Linked DNA regions of Homo sapiens. Changing the gene in region 3 together with the main gene of any one other region gives a genetic interaction. Each region holds a gene or a part of one and is shown on either strand. Other genes may lie near its edges. The genes, in order: CAMK1G, DMPK, KSR1 and AGPAT1.

What was found.
Region 1: changes in KSR1 (region 3) and CAMK1G together harm fitness less than expected from each alone (positive genetic interaction), as found in Homo sapiens cells (one large-scale study listed by BioGRID).
Region 2: changes in KSR1 (region 3) and DMPK together harm fitness more than expected from each alone (negative genetic interaction), as found in Homo sapiens cells (one large-scale study listed by BioGRID).
Region 4: changes in KSR1 (region 3) and AGPAT1 together harm fitness more than expected from each alone (negative genetic interaction), as found in Homo sapiens cells (one large-scale study listed by BioGRID).

What each region holds. Positions count from the first base shown.
Region 1 is NC_000001.11:209,597,076-209,600,744, forward strand, and holds part of CAMK1G (calcium/calmodulin-dependent protein kinase type 1G), read left to right. Parts: intron 1-2,907; coding exon 2,908-3,036; intron 3,037-3,669. UniProt on the Homo sapiens protein: Calcium/calmodulin-dependent protein kinase belonging to a proposed calcium-triggered signaling cascade. In vitro phosphorylates transcription factor CREB1.
Region 2 is NC_000019.10:45,775,919-45,779,587, reverse strand, and holds part of DMPK (myotonin-protein kinase), read left to right. Parts: exon of another isoform or gene 1-65; coding exon 66-149; intron 150-228; coding exon 229-324; exon of another isoform or gene 325-454; intron 455-946; coding exon 947-1,095; intron 1,096-1,367; coding exon 1,368-1,461; intron 1,462-1,714; coding exon 1,715-1,921; intron 1,922-1,997; coding exon 1,998-2,261; intron 2,262-3,669. UniProt on the Homo sapiens protein: Non-receptor serine/threonine protein kinase which is necessary for the maintenance of skeletal muscle structure and function.
Region 3 is NC_000017.11:27,462,857-27,466,525, reverse strand, and holds part of KSR1 (kinase suppressor of Ras 1), read right to left. Parts: intron 1-3,669.
Region 4 is NC_000006.12:32,170,244-32,173,098, forward strand, and holds part of AGPAT1 (1-acyl-sn-glycerol-3-phosphate acyltransferase alpha isoform 1 precursor), read right to left. Parts: exon of another isoform or gene 2,695-2,855; intron 1,263-2,694; coding exon of another isoform or gene 1,254-1,262; coding exon 1,054-1,253; intron 828-1,053; coding exon 694-827; intron 358-693; coding exon 182-357; intron 18-181; coding exon 1-17. UniProt on the Homo sapiens protein: Converts 1-acyl-sn-glycerol-3-phosphate (lysophosphatidic acid or LPA) into 1,2-diacyl-sn-glycerol-3-phosphate (phosphatidic acid or PA) by incorporating an acyl moiety at the sn-2 position of the glycerol backbone.

The DNA.
Region 1 (3,669 bases), on a different chromosome or scaffold from region 3:
TGCTCAGGATGAAGACCAGTATTCCCAGGCTGCAGACCCCACAGAGTTACCACAGTGGGGCATGGTGGAGAGTGGACAAGTGTACAAATTATGAAAAAGGTGCTCTTTTATCTAGCCTGTTGTCTGCTCGGGCAGGAAATATAATAATTATCATATGAACATGTATGATGGCTTCAAGGTGAATGGCACCTGCTGAAGTTGTTGCACTGCACAACCTGCCCAATAATAGCAGGGGCCCTGTCTTAAGTGTCCATTTTCTGTGGTCTCTTAATATGTCATTCTTATGTGTTGTGTATGTATCTGTCTTTCACATTGAATTCCAAGCTAGACCAATACTAATCTTAGTGCCTGACACAGAGAGGTTCCATCAGTTCAATAAACATTCATTGAATGCCTGATAGCATTTTTCAAATCAAATGCTAATTGCTTACTTGTCCCTGTTCCTCACTATTCTACAGGTTTCTTAAGAATGGAAACACTCACCTTTTAATTTCCAGTGTCTAATACTCAGTAGGTGTTCAATAAATCTTGGTTGAAGGGATGAGTAAGTGAATGGATGAATAGAGCAAGCTCGGGCGGCTTTGATTAACTCAGTTCCAAGTGCAGCTGGGAAAACAGGAAACTCAGACACAGGAAACACCAAGTAATTTCTAATGCAGATTTTTAAAGTCCTTATAGAAGCTTGACTCCTATTGGGCTTTCATTCTAGCATATCCAGATGGCAGGGTCAAGGATGGCTCAGCTGTTTCCTTACTTAGATTCTCTCTCCTCTTGTACTACTGGGTGTTCTTCATAATGGTATTCAAATAATAGTGATGATAATAATAGTATCTAACACTTATGGTCTTAATAGATGTCAGAAACACTTTTAAGCTTTTTACATATATCAAGTCATTTAATCTTCTAAACAACCTTGTGAATCAGATACTATTGATACTCCCACATTTCAGATGAGGAAACTGGGAATATGGGAGTTAAGTGACTTTTTATCCCAAAAGCTGAGATTCTAACGTGAACAATCAGGCTTCAGCATCTGTACCTAGCTTAACTGCTGGTCTGATAGCCTGATCTCCAGAGGACCCCCTTCAAACCAAGAGGCCTGTAATTTGGAATCCTGCCCTGTATTCCCATTGGTTCCACCTGCTCTGTCTTCAGAGCCTGCCTCAGAGACTGCTAGGTTCTCTCTTTTGTCTTTGCAGATCCTACTGAATGAATGAGAGGTTGCTCAGCACCCTGGCCTCTGATAACTGGTACAGAGTGATCACCACCACCTAAAATTGAGAGACGAGTCTTTTTGTTCTCACTGTATCTGCACTCTGTCCCATCTGCTACCTCCAGCTGCCACTCCAGTGTGCCATCCTGAGTCACATTGAAAGTGGCATGAATTGACTCTGTAGTGGCTTCTTTTTAGTGGGCATGCCAAGTGAAGAAATCTCTCCACAGCTGCAGTGGAGTCTCTGTCTCTAGGGGTCATTCCCAAACTATAGAACCAGGAAATAACACCTGCCTAGCCCCTGAATCTGTGGTGGCATCTTTTTCTTCCAATATGGTCTTCAAATTAGAAAGCACATTAGCATGTCAGATACAACTGCCATCAACATAACTCAGCAGCGCCCACATGACAATGAAGAGTAATTATCAGTCCTTCCCTCATCTACCCTTTCACTTTGCCTCTAAGTTTGATTGTTTAACTTTTTAGTTGGAAATAATTTCAAACTTAGAAAAACGTTTCAAAAATAAGAATAACGCCAGGCTTGGTGGCTCATACCTGTAATCCCAACGCTTTGGAAAGCCAAAGGAGAAGAGCTGCTTGATCCCAGGAGTTCAAGACCAGTTTGGGCAACTGGGTTAGTCTATTTTTATACTGCTATGAAGAACAGCTTGAGACTGGGCAATTTATAAAGGAAAGAGGTTTAATTAACTCACAGTTCAGCATGGCTGAGGTGGCCCCAGGAAACTGACAATCATGGCAGAAGGTGAAGGGGAAGTAAGGCACCTTCTTCACAAGGCGGCAGGAAGAAGTGCCAAGCAAAGGGGGAAGAGCCCCTTATAAAACCATCAGATCCCGTGAGAACTCACTCACTATCCTGAGAACATCATGAGGGAAACTGCTCCCATGAGCCAATCACCTCTACCTGGTCTCTCCCTTGACACATGGGGATTATGAGGATTATGGGGATTATAATTCAAGATGAGATTTGAGTGGGGACACAAAGCCTAACCAGATCAGCAACATAGTGAAGCCCCATCTCTAAAAAAATAATAAAATAAAATAAGAATAAGAATGGTAGAAAGAATTTCCAAATGCCCCCTGCCCAGATTCACCTCTTGTTCACAATTTCTCCCATCTGCCTTCTCATTGCTATGTTCTCTGTAGATCTGTAGAGATAGATGTAGAAAGATGATTCTTTCCTAATCTCCCAAGCGTTAGTTGTGGACAGACATCATGAACCTTTACCTATCAAGGACATTTGTGTATATTTCTAGGGATGGGGTATTCCCTTACGTGACCATAGGACAGTTCTCAACTTCAGTCAATTGAACATGGACACATTAAGTGTACCTAGTCTGTCTTCCCTACTCCAGTTTTATCAATTGACCCTATTATGTGTTTTATAGCATTTTTCCCCTCCAGTACAGGTTCCAGTCTAGGGTCTGATATTTCACTTGGGTGTTATCTCTCCCTAGCTTTTTTATGACATTGGCATTTTGGAAGAATACAGGTTCCCCCCTTCCCTTTTTTAAATTTTGTGCTTTCCTGATGTTTCTTCCAGATTTAAATTCAGTATATGCCTTTGTGGTCAGAGGACTATATAGACTCTGTTACGTCCTTTCTGAGGTCTTACATCTGGAAGTGTAAGATGTCTGCCCCCTACTAAGTTTTATCTTTTGGTGTCTTCTCCTCAGAGGAGCTTTCTCAGAAGTTTTCCTGGTGAAGCAAAGACTGACTGGGAAGCTCTTTGCTCTGAAGTGCATCAAGAAGTCACCTGCCTTCCGGGACAGCAGCCTGGAGAATGAGATTGCTGTGTTGAAAAAGTGAGTGGGTCTTAGTGTTGACTGGATCACTATGGGATCACAACATTTTCTTCACAAATTACCTTCAAAAAGGACTAGGACTGGATTTCTGCACCCAAAGGCATTGCTCACTTTGATTGAGTTGATGGGTCAGTTCAGTCAATTAGCTAAGTTTAGTCGGACAGCTGTCCTAGCTGATTTTTTTTTTTTTGGCAACAAATTGATGAGCAAATCCACTGGTGGCAGAACTGGTTTGTGCACACAGGCTGGAGAGTAATTAGCTCAAAGGAACAAAAATCAATTGAGGGCCAACATCAGGAACAATTAATAATTAAGGAGGCAGCATAAGATTTGGAAATTAGCTTCAATTTATAACAAAGCAAATGGAGGTTCAGCACCCCAACCATCTTGATGAAGGCAACACTACAAATCATCATATGTTTACAGCAAGACTCTTACCACAGACCCTTGTGAAACCCTTATGGTGTACCAAAAGTGTATTAGGCACATGAACACAGGATCAGAACCACAAGGATGAGGCAGACAAAATTCCTTACCCTCAGGAGCCTATGCTGGATACAGAGGTGCCTATAAGAAAATCCAACAAAATCGGATGTGAGTCACACTAGCAGAAGGCAGAGTTTGGAGGAGATA
Region 2 (3,669 bases), on a different chromosome or scaffold from region 3:
TTGGGTCTGGGCGAGCCCTTTTGTTTTCCCGCCGTCTCCACTCTGTCTCACTATCTCGACCTCAGGTAGCGGTAGTGAAGATGAAGCAGACGGGCCAGGTGTATGCCATGAAGATCATGAACAAGTGGGACATGCTGAAGAGGGGCGAGGTGAGGGGCTGGGCGGACGTGGGGGGCTTTGAGGATCCGCGCCCCGTCTCCGGCTGCAGCTCCTCCGGGTGCCCTGCAGGTGTCGTGCTTCCGTGAGGAGAGGGACGTGTTGGTGAATGGGGACCGGCGGTGGATCACGCAGCTGCACTTCGCCTTCCAGGATGAGAACTACCTGGTGAGCTCCGGGCCGGGGTGACTAGGAAGAGGGACAAGAGCCCGTGCTGTCACTGGACGAGGAGGTGGGGAGAGGAAGCTCTAGGATTGGGGGTGCTGCCCGGAAACGTCTGTGGGAAAGTCTGTGTGCGGTAAGAGGGTGTGTCAGGTGGATGAGGGGCCTTCCCTATCTGAGACGGGGATGGTGTCCTTCACTGCCCGTTTCTGGGGTGATCTGGGGGACTCTTATAAAGATGTCTCTGTTGCGGGGGGTCTCTTACCTGGAATGGGATAGGTCTTCAGGAATTCTAACGGGGCCACTGCCTAGGGAAGGAGTGTCTGGGACCTATTCTCTGGGTGTTGGGTGGCCTCTGGGTTCTCTTTCCCAGAACATCTCAGGGGGAGTGAATCTGCCCAGTGACATCCCAGGAAAGTTTTTTTGTTTGTGTTTTTTTTTGAGGGGCGGGGGCGGGGGCCGCAGGTGGTCTCTGATTTGGCCCGGCAGATCTCTATGGTTATCTCTGGGCTGGGGCTGCAGGTCTCTGCCCAAGGATGGGGTGTCTCTGGGAGGGGTTGTCCCAGCCATCCGTGATGGATCAGGGCCTCAGGGGACTACCAACCACCCATGACGAACCCCTTCTCAGTACCTGGTCATGGAGTATTACGTGGGCGGGGACCTGCTGACACTGCTGAGCAAGTTTGGGGAGCGGATTCCGGCCGAGATGGCGCGCTTCTACCTGGCGGAGATTGTCATGGCCATAGACTCGGTGCACCGGCTTGGCTACGTGCACAGGTGGGTGCAGCATGGCCGAGGGGATAGCAAGCTTGTTCCCTGGCCGGGTTCTTGGAAGGTCAGAGCCCAGAGAGGCCAGGGCCTGGAGAGGGACCTTCTTGGTTGGGGCCCACCGGGGGGTGCCTGGGAGTAGGGGTCAGAACTGTAGAAGCCCTACAGGGGCGGAACCCGAGGAAGTGGGGTCCCAGGTGGCACTGCCCGGAGGGGCGGAGCCTGGTGGGACCACAGAAGGGAGGTTCATTTATCCCACCCTTCTCTTTTCCTCCGTGCAGGGACATCAAACCCGACAACATCCTGCTGGACCGCTGTGGCCACATCCGCCTGGCCGACTTCGGCTCTTGCCTCAAGCTGCGGGCAGATGGAACGGTGAGCCAGTGCCCTGGCCACAGAGCAACTGGGGCTGCTGATGAGGGATGGAAGGCACAGAGTGTGGGAGCGGGACTGGATTTGGAGGGGAAAAGAGGTGGTGTGACCCAGGCTTAAGTGTGCATCTGTGTGGCGGAGTATTAGACCAGGCAGAGGGAGGGGCTAAGCATTTGGGGAGTGGTTGGAAGGAGGGCCCAGAGCTGGTGGGCCCAGAGGGGTGGGCCCAAGCCTCGCTCTGCTCCTTTTGGTCCAGGTGCGGTCGCTGGTGGCTGTGGGCACCCCAGACTACCTGTCCCCCGAGATCCTGCAGGCTGTGGGCGGTGGGCCTGGGACAGGCAGCTACGGGCCCGAGTGTGACTGGTGGGCGCTGGGTGTATTCGCCTATGAAATGTTCTATGGGCAGACGCCCTTCTACGCGGATTCCACGGCGGAGACCTATGGCAAGATCGTCCACTACAAGGTGAGCACGGCCGCAGGGAGACCTGGCCTCTCCCGGTAGGCGCTCCCAGGCTATCGCCTCCTCTCCCTCTGAGCAGGAGCACCTCTCTCTGCCGCTGGTGGACGAAGGGGTCCCTGAGGAGGCTCGAGACTTCATTCAGCGGTTGCTGTGTCCCCCGGAGACACGGCTGGGCCGGGGTGGAGCAGGCGACTTCCGGACACATCCCTTCTTCTTTGGCCTCGACTGGGATGGTCTCCGGGACAGCGTGCCCCCCTTTACACCGGATTTCGAAGGTGCCACCGACACATGCAACTTCGACTTGGTGGAGGACGGGCTCACTGCCATGGTGAGCGGGGGCGGGGTAGGTACCTGTGGCCCCTGCTCGGCTGCGGGAACCTCCCCATGCTCCCTCCATAAAGTTGGAGTAAGGACAGTGCCTACCTTCTGGGGTCCTGAATCACTCATTCCCCAGAGCACCTGCTCTGTGCCCATCTACTACTGAGGACCCAGCAGTGACCTAGACTTACAGTCCAGTGGGGGAACACAGAGCAGTCTTCAGACAGTAAGGCCCCAGAGTGATCAGGGCTGAGACAATGGAGTGCAGGGGGTGGGGGACTCCTGACTCAGCAAGGAAGGTCCTGGAGGGCTTTCTGGAGTGGGGAGCTATCTGAGCTGAGACTTGGAGGGATGAGAAGCAGGAGAGGACTCCTCCTCCCTTAGGCCGTCTCTCTTCACCGTGTAACAAGCTGTCATGGCATGCTTGCTCGGCTCTGGGTGCCCTTTTGCTGAACAATACTGGGGATCCAGCACGGACCAGATGAGCTCTGGTCCCTGCCCTCATCCAGTTGCAGTCTAGAGAATTAGAGAATTATGGAGAGTGTGGCAGGTGCCCTGAAGGGAAGCAACAGGATACAAGAAAAAATGATGGGGCCAGGCACGGTGGCTCACGCCTGTAACCCCAGCAATTTGGCAGGCCGAAGTGGGTGGATTGCTTGAGCCCAGGAGTTCGAGACCAGCCTGGGCAATGTGGTGAGACCCCCGTCTCTACAAAAATGTTTTAAAAATTGGTTGGGCGTGGTGGCGCATGCCTGTATACTCAGCTACTAGGGTGGCCGACGTGGGCTTGAGCCCAGGAGGTCAAGGCTGCAGTGAGCTGTGATTGTGCCACTGCACTCCAGCCTGGGCAACGGAGAGAGACTCTGTCTCAAAAATAAGATAAACTGAAATTAAAAAATAGGCTGGGCTGGCCGGGCGTGGTGGCTCACGCCTGTAATCTCAGCACTTTGGGAGGCCGAGGCGGGTGGATCACGAGGTCAGGAGATCGAGACCATCTTGGCTAACACGGTGAAACCCCATCTCTCCTAAAAATACAAAAAATTAGCCAGGCGTGGTGGCGGGCGCCTGTAGTCCCAGCTACTCAGGAGGCTGAGGCAGGAGAATGGCGTGAACCCGGGAGGCAGAGTTTGCAGTGAGCCGAGATCGTGCCACTGCACTCCAGCCTGGGCGACAGAGCGAGACTCTGTCTCAGAAAAAAAAAAAAAAAAAAAAAAAAATAGGCTGGACCGCGGCCGGGCGCTGTGGCTCATGCCTGTAATCCCAGCACTTTGGGAGTCCAAGGCCGGTGGGTCATGAGATCAGGAGTTTTGAGACTAGGCTGGCCAACACGGTGAAACCCCGTCTCTACTAAAAATACAAGAAAATTAGCTGGGTGTGGTCTCGGGTGCCTGTAATTCCAGTTACTGGGGAAGCTGAGGCAGGAGAATTGCTTG
Region 3 (3,669 bases):
CCCTTAACACCAACTAAATGCACCCAGGGCCAGGAGGAGGCAGGAAGTGCAAACTCCAGGCAGGCAGGCAGGCAGGCGGGCACACCTCTCTCGGCAAGTTTCCTCTTCTTGTTAGAAGGATTCAGTGATACATGTATTTAAGTGCTAATGTGATGCCCAGGAGACACCCTATTTCCCTTTGTAAAAAAGGCAATTTCTCATGGCTGGATAAGTCTACAGGGATACCAGCCTCTCTTCAACCACCCAATTTTATTTGGAAACTCAAACAGCACCTCAGTTTCATAAAAACCTAAAACTTAAACACAACACTTGGTTGTAAGTGAGCCAACAGTTTCTTGTCTCTTTCTCTGCTCAAGGCTTAAGGCCATGTCTCCCCAACTACGTTCAGTGGAAGAAAAGATCCCCTGGACAAATAAGTTTGAGAACTGTTGTTGCAGTACTTCTCAGAACCTTTAAAACACAAATCCTCATCCGCAGGGATCTTCAGGAGGGAGATGGCTGATGCAGCACAACTTTCTTCACAGGAGCATCTTGCAGAATACAGTGAGATACAGAAAGGCTGCACTGAGCCTTTTTAAGGGCCCAGGCCTTGGTGGGAGTGGGGTAGGAGCTCTCCAGATAGCTCCTAATGAGTAGGAACATTCAGGTGGCTTTTTTTTTTCCTTATTGGCAAAACTGTGTGTGCACCATGAATGAAGCTGGTCTCCCTTATCCATATCAAAACTAAACCCAAATTAATTGGATAAATTGGGACTCAACCCCTCAAGGAGCCATGCGGAAGAAAGCCCCACCACACTTTAAAGTAGCTTACCACATCATATTTGCGGAAAGCAAAACGCTTATGACCAGTATGCTGCTAATACAAATCTATAGATAATGCTGTATGAAAAATTATTTTTCCCAATCATAGCTGGCATAGTCCACATTTTGCATTACACTTTCCCCCCTTTTTTAAAAATTTTAAACACGGGTCTTTATCTCTTCTTTTTTTAAATTTTAATTTAATTATACAAGACAGAGTCTCAGTATGTCGCCCAGGCTGGTCTGGAACTCCTGAGCTCAAGCGATACGTCCGTCTCTGCCTCCCAAAGTGCTGGGATTATAGGCCTAAGACACTGTGCCCGGCCTTAAACACAAATCTTAATTCATTCTTACAATTATCCGGAGATTAGAAAAATGGAAGGGGAAGAAAAATGGCAAGCAGGTAGGCTGACTTCAGCTTCATTATTTGGAAAGACAGTTTGCTCAGTTAAAACACACTACTGCCCACCAAGGCCAAGACAACAGAAAAATACAGACTTACATAAATAGATTTTATATGTGACAGCAGTTTGAATGGAGACTTTTTCAATGCAAATGACAAACAGCTGTGCCTGGGAATAAATGACAACAAATTTTTTTATCTCAACAGCTGTCCTGAGAGCACGTCTCTACATCTCTACCTGCATTCTGGAATCAGGGAGAAAGCCAAAACGGACAAGACACTAGATCAGCCGTGTCCAACCCTTTGACTACAAGGACTTTTCCGCCTATCTGTGGTGGTGGGTATCATGAAAATTATGCACAAACCTTTTTTTTTTTTTTTAAGCTCATCAGCTATTGTTAGCATTAGTGTATTTTATCTGTGGCCCAGGAGCATTCTTCTTCCAATGTGGCCCTGAGAAGCCAAAAGACTGGACACCTGTGCACTAGATTAAAAGGCTACTCCTTCTGGAAGCAATTGTAAAGAATTTTTACATTATCTTGACATGAAAACCAATGGATAGTGGCACAGAATGCAAAATCTGCAAGGATTTTTCTTGCTGGTTTTTTTTTTTTTTGAGTCAAGTTCTTGCTCTGTGGCCCAGGCTGGAGTACACTGGTGAGATCACAGCTCAGTGCAGGCTCAAGTGCTCCTCCAGCCTCAGCCACTGTAGTAGCTGGGACAACAGGTGTGCACAACCACCCCTGGCTAATATTTTATTTTTTGTAGAGACAGGGTCTCACTATGTTGTTCACATTGGTCTCAAACTCCTTGACTCAAGGGATCCAGGATAGGATTACAGGTGTGAGCCACCACACCTGGCCATGCGCATGAACTTTTAAGACAAACACAAGGCCCCATAAAAGTTAAGGATTTCCCACCTAATTTCCAGGGGATCTTTTGGTGCAAGGATGAGAAGCCCTTAAAAGTAAACAGACAACTCCAAAGATTCAAGACAGTTCATTCGGGCTGAGCCAGCCCACTGAGCAGACTGACCTTCAAAAAAGGTCCACCCGTGACATACCCCAGATGGCGCTCCAAGAATCTCTCCAGTCCTCAGGGCCCCTAAGGCACTGGGACAGAGCTAGGAAAGCAAACCCATTTGCTTCTTCCTGCAGGAAACCCCTTGAGGTCAACACCCCACAATCAGAGGAGGATGGAGTGGCTCACCCTCAGTCAACAGGCCAGACTCAAGGTGGTATAATGTCTTAATCAAGGGTGTGGGCCTCCAGGTCTGACTCCCAACTCAGTGCTCCTTTAATAACCACCCTTTGTTAATTCTGCTTAACAGGGGTTCCTGGCAAGTCAGTTCTCCCTCAGGCCTTCAGTTTCCTCACCTGCAAGATGAGAGGGCTGGACCACATGGAAATTCCAAGACCCTTTGTAGCCCTAGGAACCCACAACTCTACTAAATCATCCCCAAAGCCAGGCACCCCAAATAGCACTGTGATCAGTATTTGTAGTTAGGGATGCAACCAAGAATGCAGTTAAAGTGACTTTCATGAGCCTCAAGTGATCAAGACCTCACCATATGATTATGTACTACCAAAGCTGATCAGTCTCTGGACAGGGAGACCTGAAATCCAGCCCCTCCCTCCGCTATCTTGGAGCAAGGAAAAGGCCTTCTTCTAATTGGTCAGCCCAGGGGGCCCCCCTTTGCTGCAGGTAACCACAAAAACTAGAAGCCACAATGCCTGACACATAGCCCAGAACCTCAGACACAAGCAACCACAAAACTAGAAGCCATAGTTCCTGACACTTATCCCAGAATCTCAGCCAGAGGACCATGTCCAGCCTCTTTTTTTTTTTTTTTTTCTCTGTCATCCAGGCTGGAGTGCAATGATGCAATCTCAGGTCACTGCAACCTCCACCTCAGCCTCCTGAGTAGCTAGAACTACAGGAGCGTGCCACCATGCATGGCTAATTTTCTATTTCTTGTAGAGACGGGGTTTACCATGTTGCCCAGGCTGGTTTCGAACTCCTAGACTCAAGCTATCCACCAGCCTCAGCCTCTCAAGGTGCTGGGATTACAGGCATGAGCCACCGCACCCAGGCCCAGCCTCCTTTTAAACTCTTGGCCGTCAGTGTGATTACAGATGCAGTGGCAAATGGATAAATGTATGAAGGCTGCCATTCCTGCTTAGGAGAGGGGGAGTTATGATGCCATAAAGATATTAAAGACGAGGACAGATATTAAATGTATTCATATACTTTGACCCAGCAAATCTCACTTGTAGGAAGATACTCGTTGCAGCACCATTTATAAAAGCAAGACTTGGAAACAGCCTGAATGGCCCACACAGGGAAACCGGTTAGATGAATTTGTGGTATGACCACACAATGCAGCCACTAATAGTGCTGATGCATATGTATATGTGCTGATACAGACAGAAGACATTTACAAGGCAATGCACATGGTATGTGCC
Region 4 (2,855 bases), on a different chromosome or scaffold from region 3:
AACACCCAGACCCTCACCTGGGGGAGAAAGAGGGTCAAAGAAGACAAATACATATGGAGGAGTCAGAATAGGTGTGATGTTATAATGGGACCTTTGAGGCCCACTGGCCCTGCATATCAGTTTATTTACAACTGTTCTACTCTGTATCCCTCCAATCCCCCATTTCCCCAGGATGACTCACGTCCTGGGTGAGCAGGGTCTGGGCGACCTCAGACATGACACTGATGGCATCCCCCGTGCGCTTCCGGTCGATGAAGATGACTCCTGCCAGCCAGCAGGCCAGCCCGGCAGAGCCAGCCCACAGTAGCTCGCGCTTGGCAATGGGCACACAGCGGCCTGGCAGTACCTCCATCATCCCTTGGGCAGGGTGGGAGTGGGTGAGGATCGGGGTGGAGGCAGAGTGTCACAGAAGGCAACCCACCTCACCCAGCTCATCACCCTCTGGTAGGGACTGGAGGTGAAGGAGGAGACTAGGCAGGGAGGGGGGCCCCAAGTGAAGGAAAGGGTGACCAAAAGTATATGTAACCTGCTTATGAGGGCAGTTCTACCCAGGGAATGAAGGCCTGAGTGGGAGGCAAGGGGGCAATGTCCCAGAGGAAGGGGAATTGAGGATCTCTAGGAGAAGATATTCTAGGGAAGGTTTCAGGAGGGGAGGCATGGCTGGGGGAGGTGTGCCCTGTGGTGGGGTCTCACCAAGCAGATCGAGAGAGCTCTGGTGGTTGGAGACAACAACATAGGGCTGCGAGGGAGGGAAGTGGTGAGCCCCTCGCACCTCCACTCGGATCCCGTACAGGTATTTGATGTGGAGCAGCATTAGACGCAAGATCCTGTGGGGTCATGGCAAGGGGTCCCAGTGGGATCCATTGATGTCCATCTGCATGCCTCAGCTCCCCCCACCTTACTGTCTTTCTGACCACCTTTGCAGTCCTCTCCCCATTCCCTGTCTCTGGTCTCTCTCAGTCTTTTCTACACACACCATGCCCCCTTCCCCCAATCCACTACTCACTTTGTACCCTTAGGTTCCCTCATTGCCCAAGACCCCTTGCCCCTCACTTCATGTTCTCGACGTTGCGTCCTCGCACGGCACACACAGGGATGGCGAGCACAGCCAGGAAGAGGATCCAGCCATTGTAGAAGGCCATCTTGAAGAAGTACTTGGCACTGGGGCTGCAGAACCACAGGGTGGGCAGCAGGAAGAGCAGCAGCAGGAAGAGCAGCAGCAGCAGCATCCATGCCCCTGGCCACAAATCCATTCTGGCCACCTGCAGGGGATGGGGCAAGGGACAATCAGCCTGGTTTCTGGAGGAGAGTGGGGTAGGCAAGGCACAGAAGGCAGGGCTGGGGGCTGGTGCTATGAGGACAAGGGCCTGAGACACAAACTGGGGCAGGGGTCTCATTGAAACCTTCCCAGGAAGGCTCTCTAGGATGAGGGTGGTGGAGAAAGAGCTCAGGACTGCTCTCCCACCACTCTTCCCAAAGGCTCCGGATATATTCAGACAAGAGACACAAGACACAGACATCTACAATTCACAGATACCTGATAATAAATGACAACAAGAATAATAGCTAACACTTGTAGCTGGTAAGGGTCTTATAATGGTCTATACTTGTGCTGTCCGAGAAAGTAGCCACCACCTACATGTGGCTACTTGAAATGCAGCTAGTCTGAACTGAGATGTGCTGGAAATGTAAAATACACATCAGATTTCAAAGACTGAATAAAAAACAAAATGTGAGATATCCATTACTAATCTTTTATGCTGACTACATTTTGAAATTATAATCTTGGGCCGGGCGCAGTGGCTCACGCCTGTAATCCCAGCACTTTGGGAAGCCGAGGTGGGCAGATCACGAGGTCAGGAGTTCAGGACCAGCCTGACCAACATGGTGAAACCCCGTCTCTACTAAAAATACAAAAATTAGCCGGGCCTGTTGGCGCATGCCTTTAATCCCAGCTACTCGGGAGGCTGAGGCAGGAGAATCGCTTGAATCCGGGAGGCGGAGGTTGCAGTGAGCCAAGATCACGCCACTGCACTCTAGCCTGGGCAATGGAGTGAGACTCCATTTCCAAAAAAAAAAAAAGAAATTATAATCTTTTGGATGTTATCAGATTCAAGAAAATATATTACTAAAATTAATTTCACTCTTTTTGCCTTGTAAAAATGTGGCTACCATAAAAAAATTACATTGTGGCTTGCATTATATTTCTGTAGAACAGTACTGGTCTATACATTAAGTTAAACTCTTAAAATGATGCATATGATAGTCTAGAAAGTACTATTACTATTTACATTTTATAGGAAATAGGCCCAGGGAGGCTAAATAACTTACCTGAGGTCATACAGCTCCTAAACAGCAGTTTCTAGGTTAAATCTAAGCCGCCTGTGTTCCTAACCACTCCATTACGCTGACACTGGTATGTATTGCATATATATATACGAACACAGCACACAGCATATATGGTGATTGTGACAGAACACTCACAGCCATATACCCAAGGGCCAAATGGCAAGATTAAAAGTTCGTGTCACTAATGCCAACAGACACACAGTCATACAAAGACTAACATGTTCACACATAGACACAAATTTATAATTACACCCAGTGACAGATAAAAGAATGTAAATGCATAACTAGAAAAATCCCTCTCCACCCAGGCAGCTCCCCTATTCCTAGGTAAACTTATGGACATACCTGGAATAGCTACAAAGACCAATCCTACCTCCAGACAGGCAAACGAATCCTACTACCCTTTCCCTTCCTTCTAGTGACACTTTGCGTGGGCAGGTACAGTGTGTGAGGCCTCACCAAGTGAAAAAAGGAGGGAATGGAGTAAAGGTGACCTAACAGCACTT